Homo sapiens: one gene and its partners. The protein of the gene in region 3 purifies or fractionates together with the protein of the main gene of each other region. This does not show direct contact. Each region holds a gene or a part of one and is shown on either strand. Other genes may lie near its edges.

The links. Proteins that work in one complex are often made in the same cells at the same time.
Region 1: the proteins of BCAP31 (region 3) and MYH10 purify together in Homo sapiens (affinity purification with western blotting; 2 studies listed by BioGRID, with this or other methods). This does not show direct contact.
Region 2: the proteins of BCAP31 (region 3) and CDH2 purify together in Homo sapiens (affinity purification with mass spectrometry, with the first as the bait; one large-scale study listed by BioGRID). This does not show direct contact.
Region 4: the proteins of BCAP31 (region 3) and CYB5A purify together in Homo sapiens (co-immunoprecipitation; 4 studies listed by BioGRID and IntAct, with this or other methods). This does not show direct contact.

What each region holds. Positions count from the first base shown.
Region 1 is NC_000017.11:8,627,926-8,631,917, reverse strand, and holds the start of MYH10 (myosin-10), read left to right. Parts: upstream 1-1,192; 5' UTR 1,193-1,264; intron 1,265-3,992. UniProt on the Homo sapiens protein: Cellular myosin that appears to play a role in cytokinesis, cell shape, and specialized functions such as secretion and capping. Involved with LARP6 in the stabilization of type I collagen mRNAs for CO1A1 and CO1A2.
Region 2 is NC_000018.10:27,992,131-27,995,630, forward strand, and holds part of CDH2 (cadherin-2 isoform 1 preproprotein), read right to left. Parts: intron 1,508-3,500; coding exon 1,370-1,507; intron 711-1,369; coding exon 525-710; intron 1-524. UniProt on the Homo sapiens protein: Calcium-dependent cell adhesion protein; preferentially mediates homotypic cell-cell adhesion by dimerization with a CDH2 chain from another cell. Cadherins may thus contribute to the sorting of heterogeneous cell types.
Region 3 is NC_000023.11:153,714,388-153,717,887, forward strand, and holds part of BCAP31 (B-cell receptor-associated protein 31), read right to left. Parts: intron 1,303-3,500; coding exon 1,155-1,302; intron 1-1,154. UniProt on the Homo sapiens protein: Functions as a chaperone protein. Is one of the most abundant endoplasmic reticulum (ER) proteins.
Region 4 is NC_000018.10:74,264,464-74,267,963, forward strand, and holds part of CYB5A (cytochrome b5), read right to left. Parts: intron 1-3,500.

The sequences.
Region 1 (3,992 bases), on a different chromosome or scaffold from region 3:
TTATTTACTTTGATTTTTCCAGTTTCCTTTCGTTATTTTGGGGCCACTGTTTTTCAGTCTCCAACGTTTTCATAAGCCCTAGGGGATATGACAGCGCTACAGGAATCCAGCCTTATATTCTTAAGAACCTCTCATAGCCCTTCACGTAGGGAGCTCTGATGAATGAATGAAGGAGCGACTGAACGAGTGAATGAATGAGGTGAATAAAGTTTCTTCCAAGTTTTCTCTCCAAGGTCGGTTCTCTTCTCATTCTTCTGGAATCTCAGCCTTGCCTGGAGGCTGGGCAGGAGAGCCTCTCACCCCGCTAACACCAAAACTGCGACCTTGGAGGACCGTGTCCTGCGCCTGGCGCTCGGCCGATCCCGGCAGAGTCCGCCTGGGGCCGGGGTCGGGACAGTGGCCGCAGCGTGGAGCGCAGCCGGGTCCCGGGCCAAACCCTGTGCGCATGGGCGGAGCAGCGCCCTCCCCCGCGTTCCTTCCCCCACTGCAGGTGAGTCGCAGCGCCGCGGCCCCAACCCCGCGCAGCCCCGGGGGTGACGTCAGGACTCTGGACCGCGCTCCGCCCCGCCCCTGCAGGCAACGCTGAGGGCCCGCGACTCCGCGGTGGAACCCCGTCCCGCTGCGGTACATGCCGGCTGCCGCAAGCACAGGGGGCGACCGGGCGCTCGAATGTGCTGCGGCTGCGGCGGCTGCCTGACGCTAGGACGAGGAGTCTGCAGTCAGAGCGCCAGCCTCCTGCCGCGGCCCACCTGCCCCGCGGCCCGCACAGCCAATGTCAGCGCAGCGCGCCGGCCGCCGCGGGGCCCGCACCCGCAGCCTCGCGGGATCGCCGGGCGTTCAGCCAGCCTCAGCTGTCCATCTACGCACGAGCCAGCCAATCCCGCGCCACTGCCCCGGCCGCACCTCCCGGAGCCTATGACGGGCGTAAGAGCCAGCCCATGAGATTGGGGCCTCTGTGGCCTGGGCTGGGAGCGGGAGCCAATGAGCGTCATTCCAGGTGGGTGGAGGGAGCCGGACTCGGGAAGGTAGCTTCGTTCGGGTTGCTAACGTCTTCCCTTGGAGATGGGCGCGCAAACCAACCAGTGGGTCTGGGGGCGGCGGTGATGGGCGTGGAGCTGGCCCAATGAGGGTAGGGGTGGGTGGGGCAGCCCCGAGCAGCAGTGCTAAAGGAGCCCGGCGGAGGCAGCGGTGGGTTTGGGACTGAGGCGCTGGATCTGTGGTCGCGGCTGGGGACGTGCGCCCGCGCCACCATCTTCGGCTGAAGGTGAGAGGTGCGGCTACCCGGGTCCGAGTGCACGGCCCAGGGCTGGGGGACAGTTTGTGGAGGGAGGAATGGCTCCTGGGCTGAGGGGTCCCGGGCGGCTCTGGAGGACAGGAACGGGGGACCGAAGCGGGAGCTGGGGAAGACAGAGGGGCTTCTGAGCTGTAGGGTTTGTGCTGCGGGGACCTTAGGTTAGTTTGAGCAGGGTCCTGGGCTGGGGGCACTGGGACCTCAGTGGGTGGAGATGGAGAGACTCCCGGAGGAGCGGGGAATGAAGTCCTTGTGAAACCCGCGGGGGTCAGGGCCTGGGTGTGCAGGAGGGCGACCCCTGGGGGGCTGGGGGATGGAGATCTGGGGGTGGGGACGTGAGGACCAGGTTCTCGGTGGGTGGGATCCCTGGGGGCGCGAGGTCGAGGGGCTAGTGTCCCGGCGGAGGTCTCGGCGTGCCCCGCGAGCCAGTGTCTGCCTCCCAGGAAGAGAGGGGATTCTAAGCGGGGCTGGAAAGCGCAGTCCCGGCGGTAGGGTGGGGGGGCGCTGGGCAGGAAGGGCCCCTGCGTGGGTTGCTGGGTGGGTTAGGCCTGGCGCGACCGGTCCCCCGCAGCACCAGAGGGGTTCACCATGGGCTTGGAAGGCGGGCGGCGCGCGCCCGACCCGTGGGTGGAGGGACAGGAGGGCATTGGCTCTGCGCGGCCGGGGAAGCGCGCGGCGGGTGAGGGGCTCCGGAGCCGGCCGCGGGCGTGGGGAGGGTCGGACTCCGCCGGCGCCGGGGAAGGAGCGCGGGAGGAGGGCGTCCTGCCGCGCCCTCCGTGGAGCGCCTAGGCCGGGGGTGGACGCCCTGCGAGGCCCAGGCGGTTTGAGGGGGCGAGGCGGGAAATGTGGCGGGGCGCGCTGCAGCAGGACGGCCGGGGGGAGGGTCAGCACTCGCCTCGGGATCCCTTTATTGTGTAAGCGAGCTGGGAATGGCTCGCCGCAGTCTCTTCATTGCCTTCTGCAGTTGGGGGTCACACCCTGATCCCATAAAATCGGACTGGAATTGGTTCGGAGGGAAGTTGAAGCCGCGGAGTCCTGGCATTTGTGGGGGCTTTGTGGGCCTGTGGTGGGCGGATGCGGCCCTGGGAAGCGGGAGGCCCCCAGCCAGGCCTGTTTGGAACTAGGGCCTTAGGAAGGAGGTTGGCGACTCGGCGGGTCAGACCGGGCTGGTGAGGTTTGGATAACGTGGCCTCTGCCTACAGCCGTTATCTCTGTTTCTTTAGGGCCTCTGCAGCTCCCTTCAAGATCACTGCGGTGGATGGAAGGGGGTGGGGTGGGCTGGGGTGGGGTAGGGGAAAGCAGGCGGGGTAGATGCAGACTGCAGATGAAACAAAGACTGCTGTTTTCGCTGAATAATGTAATACCAAACATAATACTTTGGCTTTGCTGAGATTTTGTTTTTTAACGTTGAAACTGAGGATTCTTTGAGTCAGGTTTAATTATTCTTGATAGTATCTCACTCTGGAAAACTTTATAATCTATTTATTGTTTTATCTCCTTCATCAATCTGCCTTTATTAATTATTCTTTGAGTCCCTTGCTTTTGATGTTTAAGTATGCCCTGCCTGTCTCGGGTTCTGGAAAAGTGGCCATTTTATGCATCTCCTTACTTCTGCATCTTAAATTCAGTTCTTCCCCGTCCTTATCTGGAGAAAGCATATGGTGTAATTGTGCGATATAGCACGAGCTTTGGCAGCAGAAGGATGTGACCCCTGCGAGCCTGGCTTTTCATTTGGGCTCCATAGGGAAATCATTATAACGAAGGCAGCTGAGATGGAAGGTGAGATGGAGGAAATCTTGAAGGGCACGTTGTAGGGTGGAAGACTATATGCTTCAGCGGTTTATGCACTTTATCACATGTGAGGAATTAAAGTTCCTGGTGTTGGATCCTAGTTTTGGAAATATTAAACACAGTATAGAGATATTAATTGGGAGATGGGGCAGGCCATAAGTAGCAATAGTGGCCTTTTGTGTTTGGTTTGTGTTTGTGATCATTGGGTTGAGCAGGATTTTGATAAATTAGCAGACTCGTCCAGCCCTGTCATGTAAGTGACCTCAATGGTAGCAGTACCCAAATTGGGACAGTTCTGTTTTAGCTCATCTGTTATAGATGGATGCTCTGTCATGGATAATTTATCCATCCTTCTTGTTTGCCTTTCTATGTGCAGGCCGTTCATAAAATTGAATTGTTTGCCTCTGTCCACACTCATAGTAGGTGCTGGGAGGGATTTGAAAAGTTTGCTGGGTGACATTTCATTGGAAGTGAAAAATGACCTGGGGGTGGAGCCCCAGGGGTGTGTGTGTCAAACCACTGAAAGGGATGGCAACTTTGGCTCTGTAGGGGGCTAATTCATACACAGATAAATGATTTAATTGTAATTAGGCAGCAATTTAAAATGACACTAATAACCCTCAGACCATCTTTATGTTCGCTAACAAAAAGATTCCTGTTTGTCTTTATTTCCCCTAAGTTATGGGTATCTTTTTCTATAAAATATATAAAACCTTTGCCAGATGATTCATTGGTTAAGCCTATACTTTTTAAGCCGTAATTGATTGGGTTTTTATTTAGTAGAAAGGTAGTATATAGCATTGTACACTACACACCCTTCAAAATTTCCTCCATGTCACCTTCCATCATTGTAGTGTGTACTCTGGAGCTGAACTCTGAGTTTAATCCCAGCTCTGCTACTTGTTAGCTG
Region 2 (3,500 bases), on a different chromosome or scaffold from region 3:
ATTACATTTTTCTTCTATGGCTTTTCTGGTTTGTTCACTATCTGCCAATATTCTAATAGCTGTAGACATGAAAATAGCAGCTGTGAGGCATCATTCTTAATAGCTATCAATGGTGATCAAAATTTCAGAATGTGATATATCATGAATATATCAACTACACTAACAGTTAATGTTGTTCAGGCCAGTCCTATCCTCAGATTGGTAAAAACTGTCCAAACTGATTCAAAAACAATCATCAAAACTCTCACTCAAAACTCTCATTCAAAAACTCTCACAAAACTCTCATCATAAAACTCATTCAAAAACCCTCACATCAGTGATGATGTGAGAGTACTGATGTTGGCCTTAGCCTCAGCATAAATTAAACAGTAAGATATAACCTCCCAAATATATATCAGACCCACATCTGGAGATGTCTGAAAGAAAAACGTCCTAAGTTTCCATTGCAAAACAATGAGTGGGGGACATATATTGGTCCTTGCTGAGCAGCTGTTGGAGAGATCAGTGGCCCGAGGAACACTTACTTTGACCACGGTGACTAACCCGTCGTTGCTGTTTGGGTCGGTCTGGATGGCGAACCGTCCAGTAGGATCTCCGCCACTGATTCTGTACACTGCGTTCCAGGCTGGTGTATGGGGTTGATCCTTATCGGTCACAGTTAGATTAGCTACTATGATGTCTACCCTGTTCTCAGGAACTTCACCATAAAACTGCGAGAAAGACAAACCTCAGTCAGAGGAGGGGCATGGACCACTGAAGGACAACTTGTCTTGATGACCACACCGTCCGATTTTACTGCCCCATTAGATTTTTATTATCTACACTAAATGAGGAGACTGATAATGCAGGTAATCACAGCATTTATGTCTGACTTTAAAAATACTGTAACATTTTTCAGTAGTCCAATTTTTTTCCAAATTACCTTACAGTTTCATTAATATTAAAATCAGCATCCATTTGTGAGTCTCTGGGTGATTATGGTGGGGTGGGGGAAAGAACTTGTCTGTGCAAAATGATTTTACTCCAGATATGGATAATTATATGCTGACAAAGTAGCATAAATCAGTCATGCAGCTCATGCACCTGAAAATATTCATAAGCATTTTGTTGTAACAGCACAGTCTTTTTAGGACGTGTTTTCCAGGCAGCTTATTTTAACAACTTTAACAGTGGACTTGAAGACTACGAAGAAACAAATTACTTGGATGCCTCACGTAAGGCCCTGATGACAGAAATGTCCGAGTTAGCAGCCATGCTACTATTAGGTGAAGCAAGTTCCACCTCTATTTAACACATTTATTATTCATGACCAACCTTCTCAGTAACGAACTACAGACCCAAAGTTGTGTGAGTGACAGGCTGTACTCACCGTCATGGCAGTAAACTCTGGAGGATTGTCATTGACATCTGTCACTGTGATGACGGCCGTGGCTGTGTTTGAAAGGCCATATGTGGGATTGCCTTCCATGTCTGTAGCTTGAATTATTAACGTATACTGTTGCACTTTCTAAAAAGACATAAAGATAAGAACTTAAATGAAACTAATTCCTCAAGAAGACATAACAGTTGTTCTGTAAACGGCTCTTTATAATGCAAGGAGAGCATGGCATCATTCATTCTGATTAACATGACTTGAAATTTCGCAAGTGGAGTTTCCTTTAACTTATGAAGCACAGGTCTGGTCCTTGTCTAGAGAGATTTAACTGTGTATATTCACCTCTACTGGCAGAAAGGAATGCACTGCAGATGTGTGAAATTCACAGCTAAGCTGAAACCTCCATCTGGTTCCAACTTTTGCCTTTCTTCACTTCACGAGATTGTGATCAAGCATTCAAGTCATTTGGTTCGTATTTACTTTCTTCTATGTTAATTTCTACCCAGTTTAGGATACTAAAAACAATGAAGAATCTCAAGACAGGGAGAAGAACACATACATAATTCACAAAGTATATAAGCTTTCCTTTTATATGTTCTTACATATATTCTATTATTACAGGGTAGATGCAATATTTCCCCTTAAATTCTATTGATACATATGATTCAAAACCATATAGAAGAGATATACAGTATTCTTAAACAAAGTCAAAACTTGAAGGGTTTCCGTTTATTTCCATAGTCTTCTAACAGGGCATATATTTGATAACTGCATATTCAATGGATTAGGATTTGGGTATAACACTCATTGTGTCCACTGCTTTAAGCACAGACCTACAATGGATATAAATATTGATACATTTACATGTAGATGATTATTATTAGACAGGCATCCACTACTTTCAAATTCCAGGTTGACTGTTTTAAAAGAGCCAAATTAAGCTATAATATATCTAAGAGAAAATGCTGAGATTGAGAAGTCAGGCATTTGCTGAGTAAGTTTTATATTAGGAAAACCTAACTTTAAACAATATCTAAAATCATTTGGAATCTCTGTGGAAATTTGCAGATAGATCAAAAACAGTGATCATTTTCATAAATGTTAAAACATTCTGAACAACAAAATCCGCTACATACAAAAATAAACTGTCACTGCAAAGTGCAGTTTTCCCTGTTTCTAAATATAGCTAACATTATGAATGGCCATTCTTAAGGGATTTCTGGAGCTTAGATAGAACACACACAAATTGTAGCTTTTGATTTAGTTGTCAGGGGGAGGGGCAAAGAAAAGAAAGGAGTAGGAAGGAAAGCCAAACCGCCCACACTAGATTCTAAGTCTCTGTCTGTCCACCCAAATGCCAATCTCTAGCAGTTATTTATTTCAGTTATTTTTTGTCTTCCAAAAAGAGAAAATGTTACACTATTTTGAATTAAAAAACACACACGCAGTAAGAAATAATGTTGGTTGAGTCATTTAATTTTTTCTTAACCCACAGTACCTCACTATAATGTTAACATAGGCTAAGGGCTAGGTGCGGTGGCTCACGCCTGTAATCTCAGCACTTTGGGAGGTCGAGGCAGGCGGATCATGAGGTCAGGAGTTCAAGACTAGTCTGGCCAACATAGTGAAACCCCGTCTCTATTAAAAATACACAAAAAATTAGCCAGGCGTGGTGGTGGGCGCCTGAAATCCCAGCTACTCGGGAGGCTGAGGCAGGAAAATCACGTGAACCCAGGAGGCGGAGGTTGCAGTGAGCCGAGATCGTGCCACTGTGCTCCAGCCTGGGCGACAGAATGAGACTCCATCTCAAAAAAAAAAAAAAAAAAAAAATGTTAACATAGGCTATAATACTTCTTCAGTTGCTTTCCTTCCCCAATTAGAAGTGTCACTTCAGCTTAATGCTTTCATGGTTAGTGAGAGAATTTCGCAGGACATTCAGTTCAGCCTCCCAGCTGAAAACCATGAAAATAAAAACTTTTATGACTTTTGAAATGTCAGTTTTGTTAGCTGCTATTTGCAGAAACAGATGAACATTCTCAAAAAGAGAGAAAAAAAGGAAGCTTATTTCTTAAGAAGTTAACTCACATAGGTATTACATGAAAGTATAGTTATTTCCTAATGTCTA
Region 3 (3,500 bases):
GGGTATGTGTCTGACTCCTCCCAGCCTTCCTGACTTTCCTAAGTTTGAAGACAGCAAGCTTGTAGATCAAATCTGTGATCAAACCCATTATCTTGAAAAAAATGTGTTTGCCTTTTCTAGCTCCACCCCTCTTTCCAACTTGGTCGCAGAGAGTACCAGATCATCTAAACAACAGATTTTAAGACAAGTAGTCATCGTAGCGCCTAGTAAAGCAGGACACACCAGGTGACTAGAGAGCAAGAATCTCCTAGGCATGGAGATTCTTGAGTCTCGGGGCACAAAACCAAGTGGGGAATAACTGTCCATGAGCCTGAGAATCACTTGGTGCTATGGTCTGAGTGCCCTTCAAACTTCATGTGTTGGAATTTAATCCTCACTGCCGTAGCATTAAGAGGTGGGGTCTTTTGAGAAGTGATTAAGTGATGAGAGCTCCACCCTCAAAGCAAGCGCCTTTCCAATGCCTTCATACATGGTCTGAGCTCCCATCCACCTCCCAGCCAGGCCCTGCTGATCAGAACGGCTATGTGAAGCAGGAGGCAGCAAACAGGGCCCCAGGCTCAAATAGGCACTTCGTAGTGGTCTAGTTTTGCCCGACTAGTTACCCTTAGCCTTGATTAAGGTACTTAGTTTTACCAAAAAAATCATCAGAAATACTCTGGCTGCCATGGAATGTAACATGTCCTCATTACGAGTTTCACGTGGGGAAGGCCCTGAGGTGAGGAGAGGCCCAGCCTCTTCGTGCCACTTTTACCTGCTGTCCCTAGGTCAACACCCCGGACACAAAGAGTCCCCCATTCAGTCGCTCCCTTGTGAGCTGGACTCTGAAGGTCCTCTCCCAGAGGAGGGCAAGGCCTTACCGTTACATCTCACTCTCCATGCAAACAGACCGTGAGATAGTCATCTGTTTGCCTGAGAGTATGTGGTGTGTGAGGGTCTTCTGATATTTCAGGCAGCCCTCTCCTACTCTCCACGCTGCCTCTGGAGGTCAGGAGAAAACTATGTGGCTTCCCTAACACAGACAGGGCTTTGGGATCCAGGCCACAGACTGAGGAGGAATCAAAGTCACAGGGGGGAGACTGAGCCCACTGAGCTCGGTGTCCATGGCTAGCCCATGGCTCCTTTCACAGCACCTGCCCCCTCAACCCCCCACTCACAAGGACAGCAGCAAGGAAAAGCCAGCAATGTAGAGATTCCTCTGGGCACGGAAAAGCTTCATGTGGAAGTGCTCCATGGCCCCGGGATTGTTCTGGAGGTTCACCTTTTCCGTCACATCATCATACTTCCGAATTTCGCGCACGGCATCTGTGGTGGAGCAGAGAGGAGACACGGGCATTTAGCGGACACTAGGGCAAGATAAGGCCATACCAGGCAGACAGGCGGCATGAGACAGGTCAGACTCACTTCCCTCAAATCCGCCTCCCCAGTTCTTCCCACTTCTATGCACATACACCCCTCATGGGATGCTGTTATCAGAAGCTCCCACCCTCAGGCCAGGTGCAGTGGCTCACGCCTATAATCTCAGCACTTTGGGAGGCAGAGGCGGGCAGATCACCTGAGGTCAGGAGTTCGAGACAAGCCTGGCCAACATGGCAAAACCCCATCTCTACTAAAAATACAAAAAAAAAAAATTTAGCCCGGCGTGGTGGTGGGCGCCTGTAATCCCAGCTACTCGGGAGGCTGAGGCAAAAGAATCATTTGAACCCGGGAGGCGGAGGTTGCAGTGAGCCGAAATTGAGCCACTGCACTCCAGACCGGGGGACAAGAGCGAAACTCCATCTCAAAAAAAAAAAAAAGGAAGCTCCCACCCTCAGACCCACTCCTTCCTCCAGCTTTTCAATCCCTGGCCCCATTCTACACAGGCCCCAGGCTTGCTCTGCAGTTCACGATGCTAACCAAGCCTAAAGAGTTTCTGGAAATGGGGGTGGCTTCCTTTTCCCATGGTACCCTCACCGCGTCTTGTTCTGTTCATCTCAAGTTGGCCCATAGCCCCCCAACCCCCACAATGATAAGTTGAACCTGGAGATGGAAATGCCTGCTCCGGGGACCTAAGGTGCTTAAGAGTCAAGACCCAGGCCAGATGTGGTGGCTCACGCCTGTAATCCCAACACTTTGGGAGGCCAAGGCAGGAAGACTGCTTGAGGCCAACGAGTTCAAGACCAGCCTGGGCAACACAGGGAGACTCTCTCTCAACAAAAAAAAAAAAAAAAAAAAAAAAAATTTTAAATAGCTGGGCATGGTGCTGCACACCTGTAGTCCCAGCTACTCGGGAGGCTGAGACAGGAAGATCGCTTGAGCCCAAGAGGTCAAGGCTGCTGTGAGTTACGATCACACCACTGCATTCCAGCCTGGGCGACAGAGCGAGACTCTGTCTCGAAAAAGCCAAAACAAAACAAGCAAACAAACAAAAAAATAGGAGTCAAGACCTGCAGGATACCAGCTAGGAGTCAAGGGTTTCATTTCAAAGCTTTACAATGGGTTTTATTATCTATAATGTTTTATTCTGATTACGAAAGGAATTCACACTCATCGAAAGTTCAAACACACCCAAAATGTAGAAACGGAAAGGATCCCATAACATAATCACATCTAGCAGTATATACAATAAAAATGTGGTCACATCTAAAGTCATTTTTAGTCACATTACACTGTTACCTGCTTCGTAATAGACATCCATCTCTGAAATTCTCTTTAAACACATTTTTTGGGTCCATCTCTCCCAAAGTAGACTACAAACTTCATAAGAGCAGAAATCTTTTATACTATATTCCCAGGGCCTGGGATAGCTCTGGGTGCAGAGTGGGCACTGAAATAATTGCTGAGTCAGTGAGCAGCCTCTGCTCCTGAAAGAGCCGCTGTTAGACATATAGAGCTCCAGTTAAAAATATATTTATATTTGTCTCTAATGTAGAAATTGAGCCACGCCAAACCTACTGCTTTTCCCCATGCATCCTGAGACATCGTTTTAAGTCAATACACTAAGATGTACCCAAAGAATGCTCTTAATAGACTCCCATATGAGAGGAGCAAGGTATCACTGTATGGGTATCGAGGTTCTTTTTGTATGGTGGGTTACAGGGTCTCACTCTGTCACCCAGGCTTGAGTGCAGTGGCACGATCCCAGCTCACTGCAACCTCCACCTCTCAGCCTCCCCAGTAACTGGGACCACAAGTGTGTGCTACCACACTCAGTTAATTTTTTCTTTTTCTATTTTTGGTAGAGACGGGGTTTCGCCATGTTGCCCAGGCTAGTTTCAAACTCCTGAGCGCAAGCAACTGCCTCAGCCTCACAAAGTGTGGGGATTACAGGCGTGAGTCAGGGCACTGGCCTCATGGGGTTCTTAATTTCCGGTTTTAGGCTGCTTAGTTTTTATGTTGATCTTGCATTATAAAAATCTGCCCATCCCTCAGCACCACGAAGCGAGTACTCTCAAACGCTGTTAGCAGGGGTAAAAACAGCACACCTGTATAAAATGCAAAATGTTCATACCCTCGGGTTCAAC
Region 4 (3,500 bases), on a different chromosome or scaffold from region 3:
TGCCTAAGATGACGATTCACAAGAGGCACGTGTGTCACTTCCCTCTGGAAAGCACCCTGCGTGCCGGCAATGCACGGGCAGCACAGACTGTCAGATAGATGAGTCCCTGCCTTTGCAGAACTCACTTTCTGGTAGGTAAAAACAAAACAAAACAAGTAACTTGCTGAAGATGCTGCCACCAGGACACAGTGCTGCCAGGACACAATGGAGGCACGGAGGCAGGGGTTCAACTCCACACTGGGGAGAGGCGGGAAGAGCCTCTTGTGGAATAAAAGAGTTTTAGTGCTTTCAGCTGCTTTAATATGTGAAACAAGGATGGTCATGATGCAGGGAGGGAAATTTTTTCTCCAAGATGATTGACAAGTGGGGATTAGTCACAGGACAGAGGTAAGGAGGTCTGGGGATTCTCAGGCAAGGGAAGCAGCTCTCAGAGTAATAAAAAAGAAAGCGGAGCTTGGGCAAAGCATCCTAAATACGTACTTTTGTAGGAAAAAAAAAAACTTCTTTAACTGAGCTTGAATGTTATTTTAGATTCATCCTGACCTTGAGCAAGTCACCTGCAAGTGTCCAACAACTGCACAAAAACCGGTCTCCCTTGCAGAGTCGACTGTGGTCAGTCCTTAATTTCTCCCAGTAATGAAGACATCAGGGCACATCACATTGTAGGAAGGTGGATCATTATTCTGATTTGAAACTGTTTCTCTTCCTACTTGGTCTAAACATACCTAGTGCTAAGGACATCCACTCTTTTTTTTTCTTTTTATAACATTTATCCATCTATGCTGCAGAAAAACTGGGAAGCACAAAGAAAAAAATTAAAATCACCCATCATCTTGCCTCCAGAGAGCCAGACATACACACACACGTATGTGTATGTAATGTTGGATAGAAACTGTGATGGTTATCCTATGCATTGTTTTAGAAAATAAAAAGGAGGTGATACATGGTACAGAGGCAGAGGTGCCTAGTGGTTACCACTCACTCTGTGAACTTGGGAAAACACGCATGTAGTTTTTGAGGATGAAATCTATGAACATATGTGTCTGGCACATCGTTTATGCTCAGTAACTATTACCCAGCATTTTTATTAAACACTTTCCAGTGTCTCTATGTTAGTCTGTTTTGTACTGCTATGAAGAAATACCTGAGACTGGATCATTTACAAAGAAAACAGGGGTTACTTTGGCTCTCAGTTCTGCAGCCTGTACAAGCACGGCACCATCATCTGCTCGGCCTCTGGTGAGGCCTCGGGAAGCTTTTACGCACAGTGGAAGGCCCGGGGGAGCCCACACATCTCATGGCGAGAGAGGAGGTGGTCCCAGGCTCTTTAAACAACCAACTCTGCCTGAACTAACAAAGTGAGAAGTCACTCACTACTGTGAGGACGACACAAAGCCATTCATAAGGGATCTGCCCCCATGACCTAAACATTCCTGCTAGGCCCACCTCCAACCCTGGAGGCCACATTTCAACATGAGGTTTGGAGGGAACAGGTGCAAACCATGTCAGTCACTAAGTATTCTTCCTCAACGGGACTTTGACATGGCTACATGCTGTTACATTGTATAGGCATTCCCCAATTTACTGAAATGTCTTCTACTGGGGCCATTTAGATTATTAAAAGTCCACCTTAAACAGGCATGGGAATGCACGTTAGATGTGCAGACAACAGAATGGCTACCTCAAAGCCAACCCGAAACTTCTGGATTCCTCGCCAAGGCTGCAGCAATAAAAACATGGTTTTGTTGATTCCAGAAAAGTCTGCTTAAGGTTGGACACTTCCACTCACCTACTGAGTAGAGAGAAGCCACATGGTGAGATATAAAATGACTCAGCCAGGACCCACAACTATGTAAACTCACAGACTGCTGTTACTCGCGTAGGGACCGCTGAACTCAGGAGCTGCCGTAACTTTTGATTCCTGTTAAGGATATGTCAGTGGAGACAAATCGCCCAGAGTCAATCATTATTTGCCAGGGACAGCCGATGTTCAAAGGACGACTTCGAGTGAGGTTAAAAACATGGACTTGGCCCTTTATAAAGAATTGCAGACTTAGACAAGTTTTTAGATACAGAATTCTGATCTTTACAGTGCTAAAATGGAGAAAATACACATTCAATTTCATGGGGTAATTCCACAGTCTTAATCTGAAACAGAAGTACAACAGGGCAACTCCTCACCTTAATTTTTGACCAAGAACAGCAACAAGGGATAGGTATGTATGAATCTACCTATCGACCTCTGGTTTTTACCTTGCCTAAACCATTTGTGGGGCAATTTTCTAACAAAAAAAAAAAAGAGAGAGAGAGAAACATCTTGGATTATATTGGTTTCACTGATAACTCATGTAAAATTTTAAAGATTTAAAAAACTAAAAAAAAAAAAAACATAGCTTAGAATAAACTAACTGATACTAAAATATTTTCACTCCATCCTAAAGGTCTATCTTAATAATTGGTAGGAAAATCAAATCCTAAAAATTGATATTTTGGAAAAAATAACTCATCTTGATAAGACAGTAAAAGATGAGGGTGGCTTTTTGTAATATCTAATATTTTCCTTGAAATATATGTATTACGGAGAGAGAGAGAGAGACACTTGGCCAAGTAAACTGAATCTAAATCATGTTTTGAAACTTGTCAATCTTCTCACTCTTGTTAGTAAATACATGCAGCAATTTTAATAAGCACACATCACTTTTTTTTTTTTTGAGACGGAGTCTCGCTGTGTCACCCAGGCTGGAGTGCAGTGACGCAATTTCAGCTCACTGCAACCTCCGCCTCCCAGGTTCAAGCAATTCTCCTGTCTCAGCCTCTGGAGTAGCTGGGACTACAGGCTCCTGCCACCACACCCGGCTAATTTTTGTATTTTTAGTAGAGACGGGATTTCACCAGATTGGTCAGGCTGGTCTTGAACTCCTGACCTCAGGTAATCCACCTGCCTCGGCCTCACAAAGTGTTGGGATTACAGGCGTGAGCCACACATTTGGAGACTAAAGAAAATGCTCTTCTTTGCCTGTCAGCATTCCGAAGAGACAAAGAAAAATTGGGAATGCTGGTGTTTATGCCATCGTGGTTATGCCCAGAGATAAACGTGTGGCAGCGGTGTTATGTCCTAACCTTTGGGCAGGTTATAGCACTTGGGGGTGGCCTGAAGAAAAGGCAAGGCAGAAAGTAGTAGAATAACAGGTAAGTAAACTTATCTGATGATTATCTAAAAGATTTAAGAAAAAGACCAAAATGTGTGGTTACACATAGGTAAGATTAGAGGTAACAAAAGAAGTGAAATTCTCCCAAAGAGCCTGAGCCAAATGGAAGCTGTGGATCCACTTCGGCGAAGTCAGTAGCAGAAATCTGTCCTCCATAACGCACTCCTTGCTAAGCCTCTACTCATGCGACCATGTGTGGGAAGTGACCAGCTGTAGTGCCCAGAGAGAGGGAGAAAGGTGGGGAGAGGATGTCGCGGGTCAGTAAGGAGGACCCAGAAGTGGGGATGGGCA